4 linked regions of the Homo sapiens genome follow. The protein of the gene in region 1 purifies or fractionates together with the protein of each later gene. This does not show direct contact. Each region holds a gene or a part of one and is shown in the gene's direction. Other genes may lie near its edges. The genes, in order: L2HGDH, ACP3, HAVCR2 and GM2A.

The links.
Region 2: the proteins of L2HGDH (region 1) and ACP3 purify together in Homo sapiens (affinity purification with mass spectrometry; one large-scale study listed by BioGRID and IntAct). This does not show direct contact.
Region 3: the proteins of L2HGDH (region 1) and HAVCR2 purify together in Homo sapiens (co-immunoprecipitation; one large-scale study listed by IntAct). This does not show direct contact.
Region 4: the proteins of L2HGDH (region 1) and GM2A purify together in Homo sapiens (affinity purification with mass spectrometry, with the first as the bait; one large-scale study listed by BioGRID). This does not show direct contact.

The regions. Positions count from the first base shown.
Region 1 is NC_000014.9:50,266,462-50,270,729, reverse strand, and holds part of L2HGDH (L-2-hydroxyglutarate dehydrogenase, mitochondrial isoform 1 precursor), read left to right. Parts: intron 1-1,399; coding exon 1,400-1,567; intron 1,568-2,819; coding exon 2,820-2,977; intron 2,978-4,268.
Region 2 is NC_000003.12:132,323,628-132,327,895, forward strand, and holds part of ACP3 (prostatic acid phosphatase isoform PAP precursor), read left to right. Parts: intron 1-4,268. UniProt on the Homo sapiens protein: A non-specific tyrosine phosphatase that dephosphorylates a diverse number of substrates under acidic conditions (pH 4-6) including alkyl, aryl, and acyl orthophosphate monoesters and phosphorylated proteins.
Region 3 is NC_000005.10:157,102,513-157,106,780, reverse strand, and holds part of HAVCR2 (hepatitis A virus cellular receptor 2 precursor), read left to right. Parts: coding exon 1-154; intron 155-2,031; coding exon 2,032-2,115; intron 2,116-4,268. UniProt on the Homo sapiens protein: Cell surface receptor implicated in modulating innate and adaptive immune responses. Generally accepted to have an inhibiting function.
Region 4 is NC_000005.10:151,259,508-151,263,775, forward strand, and holds part of GM2A (ganglioside GM2 activator isoform 1 precursor), read left to right. Parts: intron 1-247; coding exon 248-409; intron 410-4,268.

The DNA.
Region 1 (4,268 bases):
TCGAGACCATCCTGGCTAACACGGTGAAACCCCGTCTCTACTAAAAATACAAAAAATTAGCCGGGCGTGGTGGCGGGCGCCTGTAGTTCCGGCTACTCGGAAGGCTGAGGCAGGAGAATGGCGTGAACCCAAGAGGTGGAGCTTGCAGTGAGCCGAGATCGCTGCCACTGCACTCCAGCCTGGGCAACAGAGTGAGGCTCCGTCTCAAAACAACAACAACAACAACAACAACAACAAAACAGTAAGGCCTGGAAAGAAAGAAAATGTTGAGACAGGTGAGAACTCTGAGGCTTCAAAAATAGGTCATCTGGGAAGAAGATCTAAGAATAAGAACAGAATTGCTAGGTGTTTACTCTGTAAGAAGTAAAGAGATGGGAATTCAAGTGTGGTGGTGAATGCGGGATAAATGAAGTCATTTAGGAAATAGGGTGACAAATTGGCTAAACTTAGTGAGTAAAGTTAAAAATAAGCAGATGATAATCACAAAATAAAATTTATAGGAAATCATAACAGCCTAACATTAGCAGTCTAAAGCTGGTCACTAAAGCAAACGTTGAACGTAGTGTGTGCTCTCATTAAATGTGCATTGAATGAATGAGATTTCTAAAGTGTCCTCAGTTTGCAAAGTAGATATTGATTAGGAAGGAGAAATTGCTTGGTGGGTAGGTTACAGTTGCAACTGGGCAGGATTATTGAGTGTGAAGCAACCGAAGAGTAACACGGTAATTGCTCAGATACAGGAGAAGCTGGTTGCAATACAGAGTTTGCCTTTAAATGAGAGGGTTACAGGCCCTTCGACTTCAGTGCCAGAGATGTTATGGATATAATTATCAATAGGTAATAACTTTAATTTTAAAATGATTTTATGTGCTTATATTTTTAATGTAGGAAGTTTTGTCTTTCTTGATATTCTGCTGATTGGGTAAATCCTCATATTTGTGATTGGTATATTGAATTTTTAATTAATCCAAATTAAAAGCTGTGGGGTGGGTGGGGGAGCAAAAAAAATTGGTGGAGGCTGTCTAAATGACATTTGCTTCCTCATGCAGCAAATAGTTAAGAAGCTCCCTGCTAGGTCCTAATAAACAGATTTGTATGTATTTGTATGTATGTATTTGTGTGCATGCATGTATACCTTACTAAGTATCCTTGCTAGGTTGACCATTATTATCTTTACAGTACAAAATTTAAGGTGACATCCTCTTACATGCCACTATCCTAAGTTTCTAGCTGCCACCTAAATGCTAAAGAACATATTTTGCTGATACCTGTATTGAATATCCTCTTTTAGAAAAAATTCTATTTCTGTACCTTTTTTTCTTTTCTATCACCTGTTTTTCCCCTCTTGACCTATTCTACTCCACTTTATACAAATAACTGTTCTTTTATTTTGCACTAGGGAGAGGAAATTCGATGTCAGTATGTTGTGACATGTGCAGGACTTTACTCAGACCGTATTTCAGAGTTGAGTGGCTGCACTCCTGATCCTCGAATTGTACCATTCCGGGGAGATTACCTGCTTTTGAAGCCAGAAAAATGTTATCTTGTAAAAGGAAATATTTATCCGGTAGGTAATGATGCTTCCTACTTCTCATTTTTTTCAAGCAGGTGGTGGTCATAAAGGAGATGAAAACAACTTTCACTTGGGTCAGAAATAAGAGAAATTTTGAAGGACCGTTTTTGTAAGCATTTCATCGGTTTCTCTTGTGGTTAAATCCCTAAATCTTTATCCCTGTATCATGGTTATTAAATTGTAATTAATTGCCTGCAGGTACATGTCTCCAGAAAGCATGAGTGCACTCTGGGAAGTGCTATCAAGAAGGAACTGAATTCTACCTTCTCTCTGGTGGAGGGAAAGGGAAAACTTTCCCTTATGGAAGTCCCTGATACCCAACCCTTTTCCTCAGTTCACTATCTGTAGGTACAGAAAAGGGATGTGGCCACTCTGTAGTTTCAGGGAGTAGAAGACAGAGGTATTTAAATGAGGAGTTCATTCTTCTGTCTGGAACTACCCTGGAAATGAATGAATCTCTTAAAATATATTAGGTCGAACCAGATGAAATAGTCAGTATTCGGCTATTTGATATTTTTGAGCTTGCCGAAACATGAATTTCATCTGCTTCAACCTCATGTATTTGTACTTTGCAGAAGCCTGTGCTATGAATGTGTATTTTTTTCTGGCAGCTCTGATTTTACTTGCCAGTCATAGACATCCCTTGTGAAAGACCGAGAATAGCCTGAAGTAAGACAGTTCATCTTTTTTTTTTCCTTTACCCAGAAAGATGCATAGATGGAACAATCTATTAGTGTCAGTAGCATCAGAGTTTCTTTTTTTTTTTTTTTTTTTTCCTGAGACAGATTCTCACTCTGTTGCCCAGGCTGGAGTGCAGTGGCATGATCTTGGCTTATTGCAACCTCCATCTCCTGGGTTTAAGTGATTCTCATGCCTCAGCCTCCCAAGTAGCTGGGATCACAGGTGCACACCACCACGCCAGGCTAATTTTTGTATTTTTAGTAGAGATGGGGTTTCACCATGTTGGCCAGGCTGGTTTTGAACTCCAGATCTCAAATGATCCTCACGCCTCAGCCTCCCAAAGTGTTGAGATTACAGGCGTGAGCCACCACACCCAGCCAGCATCAGGGTTTCTTGTGTGCATTTCTAAGCAGAAGCATGTTAATGGAAAAGTATATCTGAGTACAGCTCACAATACAAATTAAATGCATGAGAAGAAAGTGTTTTATGTTACCAATTGAATGTTTGCATCTCTGATAACATGGAATGTGAAATGAGGCTGTTATTTACTATGTTAAATTTATAGGTCCCAGATAGCCGGTTTCCTTTCCTAGGAGTTCACTTCACACCAAGGATGGATGGCAGTATTTGGCTAGGGCCTAATGCAGTTCTTGCCTTTAAACGAGAGGGTTACAGACCCTTTGACTTCAGTGCCACAGATGTTATGGATATAATTATCAATAGGTAACATTATTTATTTTTAAAAATGATTTTATGTGCTTATATTTTCAATGTGGGAAGTTTTGTCTTTCTTGATACTCTACTTATTGGGTAAATCCCCATATTTGTGATTGGTATATTGAATGTTGTATTAATCCAAATTAAAAGCTTTGGAGTGGATGGGGTAGCAAACAAACAAACAAACAAACAAAAAAAAAAATGCCTTTTGGAATAAGTATAACATTTTAACTACTTCAAGAAAATTCTGTTGAGCTGGGGTTAAAAAGAAAAGGCTGGCTGGGCGCAGTGGCTCATGCCTGTAATCCCAGCACTCTGGGAGGCCGAGGCAGGTGGATCATGAGGTCAGGAGATCAAGACCATCCTGGCTAACACGATGAAGCCCCATCTCTACTAAAAATACAAAAAATTAGCTAGGCGTGGTGGCTGGCACCTGTAGTCCCAGCTACTTGGGAGGCTGAGGCAGGAGAATGGCATGAACCCGGGAGGCAGAGCTTGCAGTGAGCTGAGATCGCTGCCACTGCACTCCAGCCTGGGCGACAGAGCAAGACTCCATCTCAAAAAATGAATAAATAAATAAATAAATAAATAAATAAATAAATAAATAAATAAAAATAAAAAGAAGATAAGGCCAAGAGTTATTCATATATCTGGCAATCCAAATCTTGTATTGCTAAGTTTCCAGTTTTATTTGGTGGGGGAGGAAATAGATTCTCTCAAAATCAGTAGATGGCTATTTTAATAAAATCATTTTGAGCCAGTCTCCATCATTTTGTAAGCCACTGGAGAAATTACTGATGACCAAAGTAATTTCCTTGTGTAGGAAACTAACAATACGATTGTGTTGACCTAAGATGCAGATTCTTTACTATTGTAAGAAATACTGAATTAGGTATTTTGTTTGGTCCTTTTACCAATGTTTCTCTCTAAAGGGTTTCACATGAAAATCACTAGATTTTCCTGTTTAAATCACTAGATTTAAAGCTATACTTGAGTTTCACCCTCTATGGATTCTGAAACAGAAAGTTTAGGATGGAGCTTCCTGGCACATGTAGTTGTAAAAATATATACATATGTGCATCTAGGCTTTGCAGAGTCTCACTTGAAAATCACAACTAAAGTTTTTTTGGTTTTTTGTTTTGTAATTTTGAGACAAGGTCTCACTTTGTCCTCACTGCAGCCTCAACCTCCTGGGATCAATCAGTTCTCCCACTTCAGCCTCCAAGTAGCTGGAACTACAGGCAGATGCTACCATGCCCAGATAATTTTTGTGTTTTCTGTAGAGACAGGGTTTCGC
Region 2 (4,268 bases), on another chromosome or scaffold:
TTCAAAGCAGACAGGACATCAAGAGCAAAGGCCCTGAGGCTTCAGCAAATTTAGTATATTGGATGTAACAGCAGGAGGGCCCATGTGGGTAAGCTGAGGACATCAAGGTGAGAATATCAAGGTGGGTAGGGACCAGATCAGGTAAGATCTTGTGAGCCCTTGTAAGGACCTTTAATTTATGCAAAGAGCAATAGAACATGATATAATATCTAAGAGTGATGAGGATATAAAAGAAACAAGACTAGCCACATACAAGTTGATAATTGTTGGAGACAGTGGTGGGCTCATGATAAAAATCTCCACTTTTAGGCTGGGCACAGTGGCTCACGCCTGTAATCCCAACACTTTGGGAGGCCAAGGCGAGTGGATCACCTGAGGTCGGGAGTTCGAGACCAGCCTGGCCAACATGGCGAAACCCCGTCTCTACTAAAAATACAAAAATTAGCCAGGCGTGGTGGCAGGTGCTTGTAATCCCAGCTACTTGGGAGGGTGAGGCAGGAAAATCACTTGAACCTGGGAGGCAGAGGTTGCAGTGAGCCAAGATCATGCCATTGCACTCCAGCCTGGGCAACAAGAGCAGGACTCCATCTCAAAAAAAAAAAAAAAAAAACTCCACTTTTGTATATCTTTACATTTTCCACTGGATATAGCCTCGACTGTACTCACCAGGTTCTCCACACCCTAAGCCACATGCCAGATTTGTTTAGCAGATTCAGTGGAGCAGGTTCATTCATGGGGGCACCAAACCAAAAGTCCTTTTAAAAACAGTTACCTATGATTTAAAAGTGTGAAGTGATTGTAGTATGATGGGGAAACAGTGGGCCAACTATCATGAGAATTAGGAGATCTGGACAGCTACATGATCTCTTTGATCATATAGTTTTCTTACTTGCTCAGTGCAGCAGTAGTGCCAACCTGTCCTCAGACGGGGATGTAATAATTAAAAGAGGTAGCAGGGGAAAATTCTACAAACCATGGAGGGTTGTGCAAATGTAAGGAATTATTATTTTTTTTTATTTTTATTTATTTATTTTGAGACGGAGTCTCACTCTGTCACCAGGCTGAAGTGCAGTGGCACGATCTCGGCTTACTGCAACCTCTGCCTCCCAGGTTCAAGTGATTCTCCTGCCTCAGTCTCCCGAGTAGCTGGGACTACAGGCATGCGCCACCACACCCAGCTAATTTTTGTATTTTTAGTAGAGATGGGGTTTCACCATGTTGGCCAGGATAGTCTTGATCTCCTGACCTCATGATCCGCCTGCCTCAGCCTCCCAAAGTGCTGGGATTATAGGCATGAGCCACTGTGCCTGGCCAGGAATTGTTATTATCTTGGATGTCTTTCTATTACAATTACCACTACTACTGCAAAAATCCTAATTGCTAATAAAGTATTTTTAGGTTTTTAAAGGATTTCATAGAGTATGATTGCTGGACTGAGCACAGAGGTAATAATTGGTAGAGCAGCAGTTAAGAAGATTGCTCTACCACAGAATTAAAAGAATGTCTTCGCATAGTCCAAGAACTCCAGCTGAATTTTGAAACTCCAAAAGCTCAAGGAACACCAGCTTCACATTTGCCTGCGGGAGGGGTGTGTGCACACATTTTGATTTCCAGCCCTGGAAGTGGAGAATGGTTTATTAAGTGTTTCTCCAGGACATCCCTTCCAAAGGGTTGACAGCATGTTTGAGCAACTACCTTGGAAACACTTAAAACCTACTGAAATGTAGGGGAGTACAATTATTTCTGAACTATGGGCCAGAGTGAGAAAGTTTGCCCAAGTCTCATGATTATGTTCCAGTTCTCTGCTCTTCAAAACACTCTGCTAAGGTGACCACACTTGTTTTTCTCTCTCAGGCCATTCTGTCATTTAGTTGCATAACCTCAGTTCTATTCTTTCAATAATATACATAGTTCACAGTGCCTTCGGGGTAGTTTCCGTATCAAGGTTTTGGTTTCTTCTGATACAAAACACACACACACACACACACACACCCCTTCCAATCCTAGAGGAAAAGAGTATACTAAGTAGAGTTAATAAAGAAGCGTTAGATCCCAGACCATTCAGATTTAGCTGGTGGGACTGTGAGGAGTGTGATCATACAGAAATGAACCTCTCACAGGTGGTTAAGTATGCTGGAGTTGGAGGCACAGCCTGTGTTTGAATATCAGCTCTACCACTTCTTACATGCTGTGTGAGTTTAGACAGGTCACTTAATTAAGCTAAACTTCCTCATTTGTGAAATGGAAATAATAATAGTAACTGCTTTGTGGAACTGATGAGAAGATTACATCTATGAGAAGCACTTAGCACAGTTTCCAGGACAAAGTGAGTGTTCAAAAAATGTTAAGGAGTTACCGTTGTGGTTATAGGTTGGTGGGAAGCAATGTAAATTATTTTATTACAATGTCTCTCACCTGACTTCTCTTTGGCTAACTCAGTGGCTCTCAACTTGGGGTGATTTTCTGCCCCTATGGCAGAAAATGTGCCTTTTTCAGTTGTCACAGCTGGGGAATGTTACTGGCATCCGGTGGGTAAAGGCTAGGGATGCTGCTAGACATTCTACAATGCACAGGACAACCCCCACAACAAAGAATTATCTAGCCCAAAATGTCAACAATGCTGAGGTTGAGAAGCCCTAGAAACTAAAACAGTGTGGGGTTTGTAATTTATTGAAACCATGTAACAACTTTAGTTATTCAAAGACACATTTACCTGGGATATAAAAACTCTAAAATGTACTTCAATTGTGGAAAGAGGCATCAATGATTAACCATAATCATTTCTGATCATGACCAAGTCACCCCTGAGACTAGTAACTGCAGGTGCTCACAAAAAAATATGCAGCTGTCCTTCCTGCCTTCAGGGGATCATTCATGAAAGTAATTTCTCACCTGACCAAAATGATCGCTTAACATTTATTGCATCATTGCCCCTGTTTCTGTAGACTACTCTACCGAAGTTTTAATTTGTCACTAGTTTAAAGGGCCAAAAGATCTGTTTTCTTCAGATATTAGAGACACAAACCAAGCATCTCCCACTTTCTTGGAATTCCTTCTCAAAAATGACTAAAGTCTGAGACTGTTTTCTTATTTAATGTCTATTGAATTCTGTTTTACAGAATTTCAAAAGAGCAGGTTCTTAGCTTACTTTTCAATGGAACATTTTAGCCAGGTAGTATAAGTACAGGTGCGGGTAACCTCAGATAAATCAAGGTGTTATGCAGCTGTCTCTATATTAAAAATATTTGCTGACATCAGTGTAGACTTCATCTTGTAGTTCTTCAGTGTTTTCTTTCCTTATCTTTTGCTCATAAGATGGCTTTGTGTTTGGTTTGATATTATACTGAGAAAGCATATTAGAATCAAAGCACCAAGATTTCAAAAGTCCAGACTACTCTTCCCAAAGAGAAATGTGCAATCACAATAGCATGACATGGGTACAAATATAGAAGTATGTTATTAAAGTATTGAGAATTAGCTTTCCTAACCTCCCCACCTGCAATCTTTTACTCCTAATCTCCAAAAAATGAACAAATCATTGGCTCAAAATGGTCACAAATTGTATGTGGTGTTAAAAATCTATTATTTTTATTGTATATAAAATGTTGCCAGGTGTGGTGGCTCATGCCTGTAATCCCAGCACTTTGGGAGGCCAAGGCAGGTGGATCACTAGGTCAGGAGTTCAAGACCAGCCTGGCCAACATGGTGAAACCCCATCTCTACTAAAAATACAAAGATTAGCTGGGTGTGGTGGCGTGTGCCTGTAATCCCAGCTTCTCGGGAGGCTGAGGCATGAGAATCACTTGAACCTGGGAGGCAGAGGCTACAGCGAGCCAAGATGGTGCCATTGCACTCCAGCCTAGATGACAGAGCAAGACTCAGTCTCGAAAAAAAAAAAAAAGTTATACTAGTTGGGCACGGTGGCTCACACCTGTAATCCCAGCACTTTGGAAGGCCGAGGCAAGTGGACCACCTGAGGTCAGGAGTTCAAGACCAGCCTGGCCAACATGGTGAAACTCCATCTCTACTAAAAATAAAAAAATTAGCTGGGCGTGGTGGCAAGCGCCTGTAGTCCCAGCTACTCAGGCGGCTGAGGCAGGAGAATTGCTTGAACCTGGGATTCGCCACTGCACTCCAGCCTGGGCAACAGAGCAAGACACTGTTTCAAAAAAAAAAAAGTTATACCACTATTACTGTAATCATTAAGGGAAGAATACTTCTCATCAGAGTTTGTCTGCAGTAAAGTACTCTTGTCAGCTTTGTGTTCC
Region 3 (4,268 bases), on another chromosome or scaffold:
AGATACTGGCTAAATGGGGATTTCCGCAAAGGAGATGTGTCCCTGACCATAGAGAATGTGACTCTAGCAGACAGTGGGATCTACTGCTGCCGGATCCAAATCCCAGGCATAATGAATGATGAAAAATTTAACCTGAAGTTGGTCATCAAACCAGGTGAGTGGACATTTGCATGCCATCTTTATGAATAAGATTTATCTGTGGATCATATTAAAGGTACTGATTGTTCTCATCTCTGACTTCCCTAATTATAGCCCTGGAGGAGGGCCACTAAGACCTAAAGTTTAACAGGCCCCATTGGTGATGCTCAGTGATATTTAACACCTTCTCTCTGTTTTAAAACTCATGGGTGTGCCTGGGCGTGGTGGCTCACACCTCTAATCCCAGCACTTTGGGAGGCTGAGGCCGGTGGATCATGAGGTCAGGAATTCGAGACCAGCCTGGCCAACATAGTAAAACCTTGTCTCCACTAAAAATACAAAAAATTAGCCAGGCATGGTTACGGGAGCCTGTAATTCTAGCTACTTGGGGGGCTGAAGCAGGAGAATCACTTGAACCTGGGAGTCGGAGGTTGTGGTAAGCCAAGATCTCGCCATTGTACTCCAGCCTGGCTGACAAGGGTGAAACTCTGTCTCAAAAAAAAAAAAAGAAAAGAAAAGAAAAGCCAAAACTCATGGGTGGAATGTATAGATGGGATGAAAGGCCTAGATCAGTGGTTAGAGACCCTGACTCTCATTAGAATCACATAGAGAGTTTTTAAACAACTATAGATGCCAGGTACAGTGGCTCATGCCTATAATCCCAATACTTTGAGAGGCTGAAGCAGGAGGATCACTTGAGGTCAGGAGTTTGAGACCAGCCTGGCTGATATACTGTGGCTACCCCTATCTCTTAAAAAGCAGAAGAAAAAACCCCACTACCAAAAACCAGAGAAATCAGCATCTCTGGAGGTAGATGCTAAGCATTAGCTTTTTACAGAGTCTACCTCAGGTGATTTTACCCCAGGTGCAGCCAGCATGGTGAACTGCTGGGTTATGCATGTATGCTGGGAGGTGAACAGACTTAAGATTTCTATAACATGTACTTTGTGCCCAGATAGAGCTGAGTTTACATCTAACTCTGCCTCTTACTAGCTATATAATCCTGAGCAAGTTATTGAAACGCTGTGAGCTCCTCTTCTATAAAATATGACAATAATACCGATCATGTGGGCCATTAGAAGGATTTTATGTGATAATATTTTATTAAAAGCCTTTATAGGTTGGGCATCCCAAATCTGAAAATCTAAAACCTAAAATGCACCAAAATCTGAAATGCTCTAAAATCCAAAACTTTTTGGACACTGACATGACATTCAAAGGAAAAGCTCATTGGAACATAAGTATAGGCAGATACTAAAAAATAAAAAAATAAAAACATGGCTGGGCGTGGTGGCTCATGCCTATAATCCCAGCACTTTGGGAGGCTGAGGTGGGTGGATCACCTGAGGTCGGGAGTTCGAGACCAGTCTGACCAACATGGAGAAACCCTGTCTCTACTAAAAATACAAAATTAGCCAGGTGTGGTTGCACATGCCTGTAGTCCCAGCTACTCAGGAGTCTGAGGCAGGAGAATTGCTTGAACCCAGGAGGCGGAGGTTGCAGTGAGCCGAGATTATGCCATTGCACTCCAGCCTGGGCAACAAGAGCAAAACTCCGTTTCAAAAAAAAAAAAAAAATTCAAAATCTAAAACATTTCTGATCTCAAGCATTTCAGATAAGGAGTCTTCAACCTGTAATTATGGCCATTTGTGTGGCTGTTAGTTCCGCTATTAATAATCAGAATGTAACAATGATGACTGCATCTTACCTTTGTCAAACATTTGAAGTGTGTGATACACTCTCAACGTAGGTATCCAGGCAGGTTTGGAAGCTGAGGGTGTATTTCTCTTTCTTAATTGTCTTTCGCATTTTTTTCTTGCTGCCCCTTTGATTCCCTGAAATAAGCTTTCTGCTCTCAGATAATTTTCATCCTTATGTTGTTTCTGACATTAGCCAAGGTCACCCCTGCACCGACTCGGCAGAGAGACTTCACTGCAGCCTTTCCAAGGATGCTTACCACCAGGGGACATGGCCCAGGTAACTATGCATGGGGCAGAGGAGGGAATCTTTAGCTGGCTCTGAATTCAGAGGATTTTGAATGTGGGAAAAAAAGATGAGAAAACAGTGTGAGAGTGGAGGCATGGATATCTCCGTGCACCTGAAATAGTGTTTGAAAAGAGGGAAGTGGTGGAGACACACCTGTGCTGGGAAAAAGATGGTCTGGCTTAGGATTATTTTACTTAAATTTTAACTGGAAAAAAGTTAATAAACTTTATAGTCTTTAATTTTACTTAAATATTAACTAAATTGAATGAAATGCTCATTACTTTGTCCACATTTTCTGACTGACCCTGGACTGGTGATGTTTGGTCATGAACTGGTGTCAGTCTGTGTTTGGGAACTGACACATTGGATTAGGTGATTTCTAGGATGCCTTCTAGCTAGAATAAAGCCCATCACCTTCCCTGGATTCCAGCCACAGAAAGAATAGTTAAATTCTTCATGTAATTCAGCAAGGACGTACTCAGGGTGCTCCAGAAGAGAACACTGGGCATAAAGCAGAAGTCAAGTCACATTGATCATGAAGGTTAATTTTAAGGTATTTCTTGTCAGTGTCCTGGTCTCTTCTAAACTCTCTGGAGCTCCATTTTTTTTTTCTTCTGTAAAATGAGGTTAATAGGTGAGTCCCACCTCATAATGTCATAAATCTCATAAATCACACCTTATGGGCTTTAAATAAGAAAATGTCTAAAACGTTTATCCCAATGTCTGACCACAATTTGTACATGTTAGCTGTTGTCGTTAATATTATAAGATCAGGAGGCACAGTGAGATTGTGGTTAAAGTACTTCAGTGACAGGTGGAATGGGTTCTAATTTCAGCTGTTCTTGATAGCTCTGTGACCTCAGTCAAGTTGCTCAAATTCTCTGAAGCTCAGTTTGCTCATCTCTACAATGAGGATAATTCCAGTGCCCATGTCATGAGGTGGTTGTAATGTATAAACATGATAATGTATGTAAAATGCTCAGCATAGTACCTGGCCCATAAAAAGCACTCAACTGTTTATTATTACTATAGTTACTGGTTTTAGCTCTCCAAAGTTTCAGTCTTTGGTTAGTCTTTAGTGATTGGTAGCCAACATCTTTTATGCAATTAGAGAGGAAACTAAATATGGTGGGGACAGAAAATAATAAAGTTATACCAGATACTTATTGTATGCCATTGTTATATTTTAAAGAATCTTACAACCATAGTGCTAGAAGGGACTTCAAGGGTCATTTAGTCTCACTTTCCCATCCTGTGCTTCAGTACTTTTTTTTTTTTTTTTAATTGAGACGGAGTCTTGCTCTGTCACCCAGACTAGAGTGCAGTGGCGCAATCTCGGCTCACTGCAAGTTCCGCCTCCTGGGTTCACGCCATTCTCCTGCCTCAGCCTCCCAAGTAGCTGGGACTACAGGCGCCCACCATCAAGCCCAGCTAATTTTTTTCTTTTTTGTATTTTTAGTAGAGACAGAGTTTCACCGTGTTAGCCAGGATGGTCTCCATCTCCTGACCTTGTGATCCTCCCGCCTCGGCCTCCCAAAGTGCTGGGATTACACGCGTGAGCCACCGCGCCCGGCCAGTACTTTTTACTACATCACCACTGAATGGGCATTTGCTGTAGACGGAGTTCACTCCCTGTCGAGGTGGTGCATTTCCTTATACTTGTCTCTACCACAGACAGAAGTCTTCTTTCCTTTAGTTTTTCTTTCCTTTTTTTTTTTTTTTGAGACGGAGTCTCACTCTCTCACCCAGGCTGGAGTGCAATGACACGATCTTGGCTCACTGCAAACTCTGCCTCCCAGGTTCATGCCATTCTCCTGCCTCAGCCTCCCAAGTAGCTGGGATTACAGACGCGCGCCACCACGCCCCGCTAATTTTTGTATTTTTATTAGAGACGGGGTTTCACCATGGTGGCCATGCTGGTCTCGAACTCCTAACCTCAGGTGATCCCTCTGCCTCGGCCTCCCAAAGCGCTGGGATTACAGGTGTAAGCCACCACGCCCAGCCTTCCCTTTAGTTTTTGTTTGTTAGTTCCTTCCCTCTAGGGCAACAAAAATGGGAATATAGGAATAATACCTCGAACCTCTGAGCTTCTCAAGGGCCTGACTGAGAAAAAATATTGAAACAACCAAAAATAGGTCAGTAGC
Region 4 (4,268 bases), on another chromosome or scaffold:
TTATAGTTTACAATACACTTTTGGGAGATTATGTCTTTTGAGTCTTTTAGTTTAGTCCTGCCTATAAAATGAGTAGGATAAGTGTTATCCCAGCTTCATAGGTATGGAGTCTCATAGATGAGGCTCAGGGACGGGGGTGCCTCACCCAAGGTCACTCTGCCAGGAGCTCATTTTTCCTGTGATCTGTGATAGTTTCTTTTGTCAACCTTTTTCTTCTTCTCCTTCCTTGCTGCCTGATTGTCCCCAGCCATCCCAGCTCAGTAGCTTTTCCTGGGATAACTGTGATGAAGGGAAGGACCCTGCGGTGATCAGAAGCCTGACTCTGGAGCCTGACCCCATCATCGTTCCTGGAAATGTGACCCTCAGTGTCATGGGCAGCACCAGTGTCCCCCTGAGTTCTCCTCTGAAGGTGAGCCTGGGGGTGGGTGGAGAAGGGGAGGTGCGAGGGTCTGGCCAGCAGGGGTACTGGGGCATGTATGCTTGGGGAACTGTGAAGAATTTCAGAATCCTGGATTCCCAGAGAATAGTACAGGACATGTAGATTCAGACACTCTTTCACAGGTTCATGGAATCTCAGGATCATAAGATTGAAAGGAATCTCTGATGTCAGCGCCAGCAACTTCCTGGTGAGGGCAGGAGTGACGGATACCTTGCACCTGGCAGAAGCGTCCTGGCCTTCTCTGGGCCTGGTGGCCAACTGCTCATTATTGTCTGACAGCTCTGGTTGGCCAATTTGGTTTTGTTGTTAATTATAAAATTGATATACCAATTAGCCAGTAATATATAGTCACTTTAGAAAACACAAGTGGTCAAAAAATAAATAAAATAGGCCAGGTGTGGTGGCTCATGCCTGTAATCCCAACACTTTGGGAGGCTGAGGTGGGTGGATCTTTTGAGGTCAGGAGTTTGAGACCAGCCTGGCCAACATAGTGAAACCCCATCTCTACTAAAAGTACAAAAATTAGCTGGGCGTGGTGGCATGTGCCTGTAATCCTAGCTACTCAGGAGGCTGAGGTAGGAGAATTGCTGGAACCCAAGAGGCAGAGGTTGCAGAAAGCCAGGATCGCACCACTGCACTCCAGCCTGGGTGACAGAGTGAAACTCTGTCCCAAAATAAATAAATAAATAAAATAAATCACTTGAAATCTCACTACCTAGTGATAAGGGATAAGCACTTTTAACATCTTATAGGATATTCTTTGCAACTTTCCCCCATACAATTACATACATAACACACATATTTATTTTTAATGGATATGTATGATAATAGGCAGTGCTCATTGTAAATGTCCTCCAGTAATCTAAATCCTAGAGATAGTCAGTGTTTGCTCTTTATATATCCCATCAGAATTTTTATGTGTTTGTAAATATATACACACTTATACTCATGGGATTATATGATATGTGCTATTATACTTGCTATTTTTTTTGCCTCATACTATATGTCCATATCTTTCCAAGGATTAGGTGGCTCTACTTATTCAATTTTTTTTTATCCAATCATTATTTTATTATTTTAATGTATTGTAATTTTAGAGACAGTGTGTCACTCTGTTGCTCAGGCTGGAGTGCAGTAGTGTGATCATGGCTTACTGCAGCCTTGACCTCCTGGGCTTAAGGGATCCTCCCACCTCAGCCTCCTGAGTAGCTGGGACCACAGGTTCATGTCACCATGCTTACCTAATTTTTTTATTTTTTATGGAGACGGAGCCTCCCTGTGTTGCCCAGGCTGGTCTCAAACTCCTGAGTTCAAGCAATCCTCCTGCCTCAGACTCTCAAAATGTTGGGATTATAGGCGTGAGCCACCTTGCTCAGCCCACCCAATCATTTTTAATGGCAGAAATATTCTGATGTGGATCTTTCATAATTTATATAACAAGTCTATTGTTGAACATTTAGTTTGTTTCCAGGGTAGTTTTTATTTGTTTGTTTGTTTATTTGTTTGTTTTGAGACAGGTTCTTACTCTGTTGCCTAGGCTGGAGTGCAGTAGCGCAATCTCAGCTCCCTGCAACCTCCACTTCCCGGGTTCAAGCGATTCTCCTGTCTCAGCCTCCCAAAGTGCTGGGATTACAGGCACCTGCCATTGCGCCCCACTAATTTTTGTATTTTTAGTAGAGATGGGGTTTCACCATGTTGGCCAGGCTGGTCTTGAACTCCTGACCTCAGGCAATGTGCCTGCCTCGGCCTCCCAAAGTGCTGGGATTACAGACACCTGCCACCATGCCCAGCTACTTTTTGTATTTTTAGTAGAGATGGGGTTTCACCATGTTATCCAGGCTGGTCTTGAACTCCTGACCTCAGGCAATCCACCTGCCTCAGCCTCCCAAAGTGCTGGGATTATAGGCTTGAGCCACTGTACCTGGCCAGAGGGTTTTTTTTGTTTGTTTGTTTTTTGTTTTGCTGTAGTAACCACCTTTGTAGAAATTATTCTTATAGTACATCTTTTTATAATTTTCTGATTCTCTAGATACACACTTTTTAGGTCTTTTGATACATTTTGCCAAAGTGCCTCCCAATGTTTGAATAAACCTGCATCATTCCTAGTGAGCGTAGATGTCTATTCATAAGTTTATTTGCCTTTTGTATTTACTTTGGGAATAACCTGTTTGTTTCCATCCATTGACTATTTTAGGGGTGTATGTTTTTATATTTTCTTAGAAAACAATGAAGACTTTTCATATATCCATTGCAACACCATTTAATATGGTCCTTTCCTCTCTAGCTAAAATTGCTACCTTTATATGATGCTCCTCTATGCCCTTCAGTCTGTTCCTGATCCAGATCTATTCTAGTACCAGTTTTGTGTTAATTATTTAGAAGATTCCTGATTTGGATTCTGTGTTTCTATCATTATCCTTAGACCTGTCTTAATCACAGCTCCTACGTTATGGGCTTTCCTTGAGCAATACCTGAGTTAGAAAATCATGTGGAAAGTGCTTTGCACAGGGCCTGGCACCCAGGACATGCTCAGTACATTTTATATCTTGTGAACATTTCGATTAGTATCTGTCTTATCCTGCAGTCTCTTGACCCAGACACAAGTCCTGGATATGTGGCAGCTTTCAGCTCCCCTGCACCTCCTACCAAGCCTTTTCCTAGCAGAGTCATTGTGTTTCCATTACTGTTCCTCAAGTGATAGGGGGTCAAGCCCTGTACCCTTGGATCTGGGCCAAGGGATGGAATCATTCCCTATGTATGGACACTGGACTGTTTCTCTGCCAGGGTCACACACATTTATTTGTGTGCTCCCTCTGCTGATCTGGAGTGTGGGCTCTCCTGGTAGGCCGTCCGCCATGCTCCCTCTGCTGCCATCACCATGCAGCCACTGGTGTTTCCAGGGAGGGGGCTATGCAGCTGACTTGGAAACAAGAAGCTGGCAAACCCGCTCTTCTGCCCTCAGCCTGCTTTTCCTGGCTTCTTCACAAACCATTAAGATGGGTTTTACTCCCTATTCTCCTTTTCCATTGCTTTATTACCTTTCATAAATTTGGGCCTACATAATCTCCTCTGTCTTTACTGTCACTTGTGCTTAGGAAAAATTAGCCTCAGATCCCCTCTGCTCCTTCTTTTTCCCCAATTTCTTTTTTTTTTTTTTTTTTTTTGAGATGGAGTTTCACTCTGTTGCCTAGACTGGAGTGTAGTCGCGCGATCATGGCTCATTGCAACCTCTGCCTCCCGGTTTCAAGGGATTCTCCTGCGTCAGCCTCCAGAGTAGCTGGGATTATAGGCGTGCACTTTTTTAGTAGAGATGGGGTTTTGTCACATTGGCCAGGCTGGTCTCAAACTCCTGACCTCAGGTGATCTGCCCACCTTGGCCTCCCAAAGTGCTGGGATTACAGGCGTGAGCCACCAGGCCCGGCTCCCAATATTTCTCGTATATATATATATATTTATTTATTTATTTGGTTCAGTTCTTTTTTCAGGATATGTGCATATCAACTATTAGATGAAAGCTCTTCTGACCACTTGCTAGGGAGAAGAGCCGATGAGGGACAAAGGGTCTCAGGAAAGGTTGCAACTTGACCCAGGTCACAAAGCTAGTTGTTAGCATGGACAAGGCTGGTATGTTTATCTTGGGGTTTGGTTCCTGAGCTTTTACTGGCAGGGAGGTAGACTTGGTGCTTGGTGTATTTGCAGGGGAGGGGAGAGGAGTGCTGCAGATTCAGTTCCAGAACTCTCCCCTTGCCCAGCAGACCTGCTTATGAGAGCTGCCCAGAACTAAGCTCTGGATGAGCCTGGAGCACTCTTGGGGTCCATGGGGCTTCAA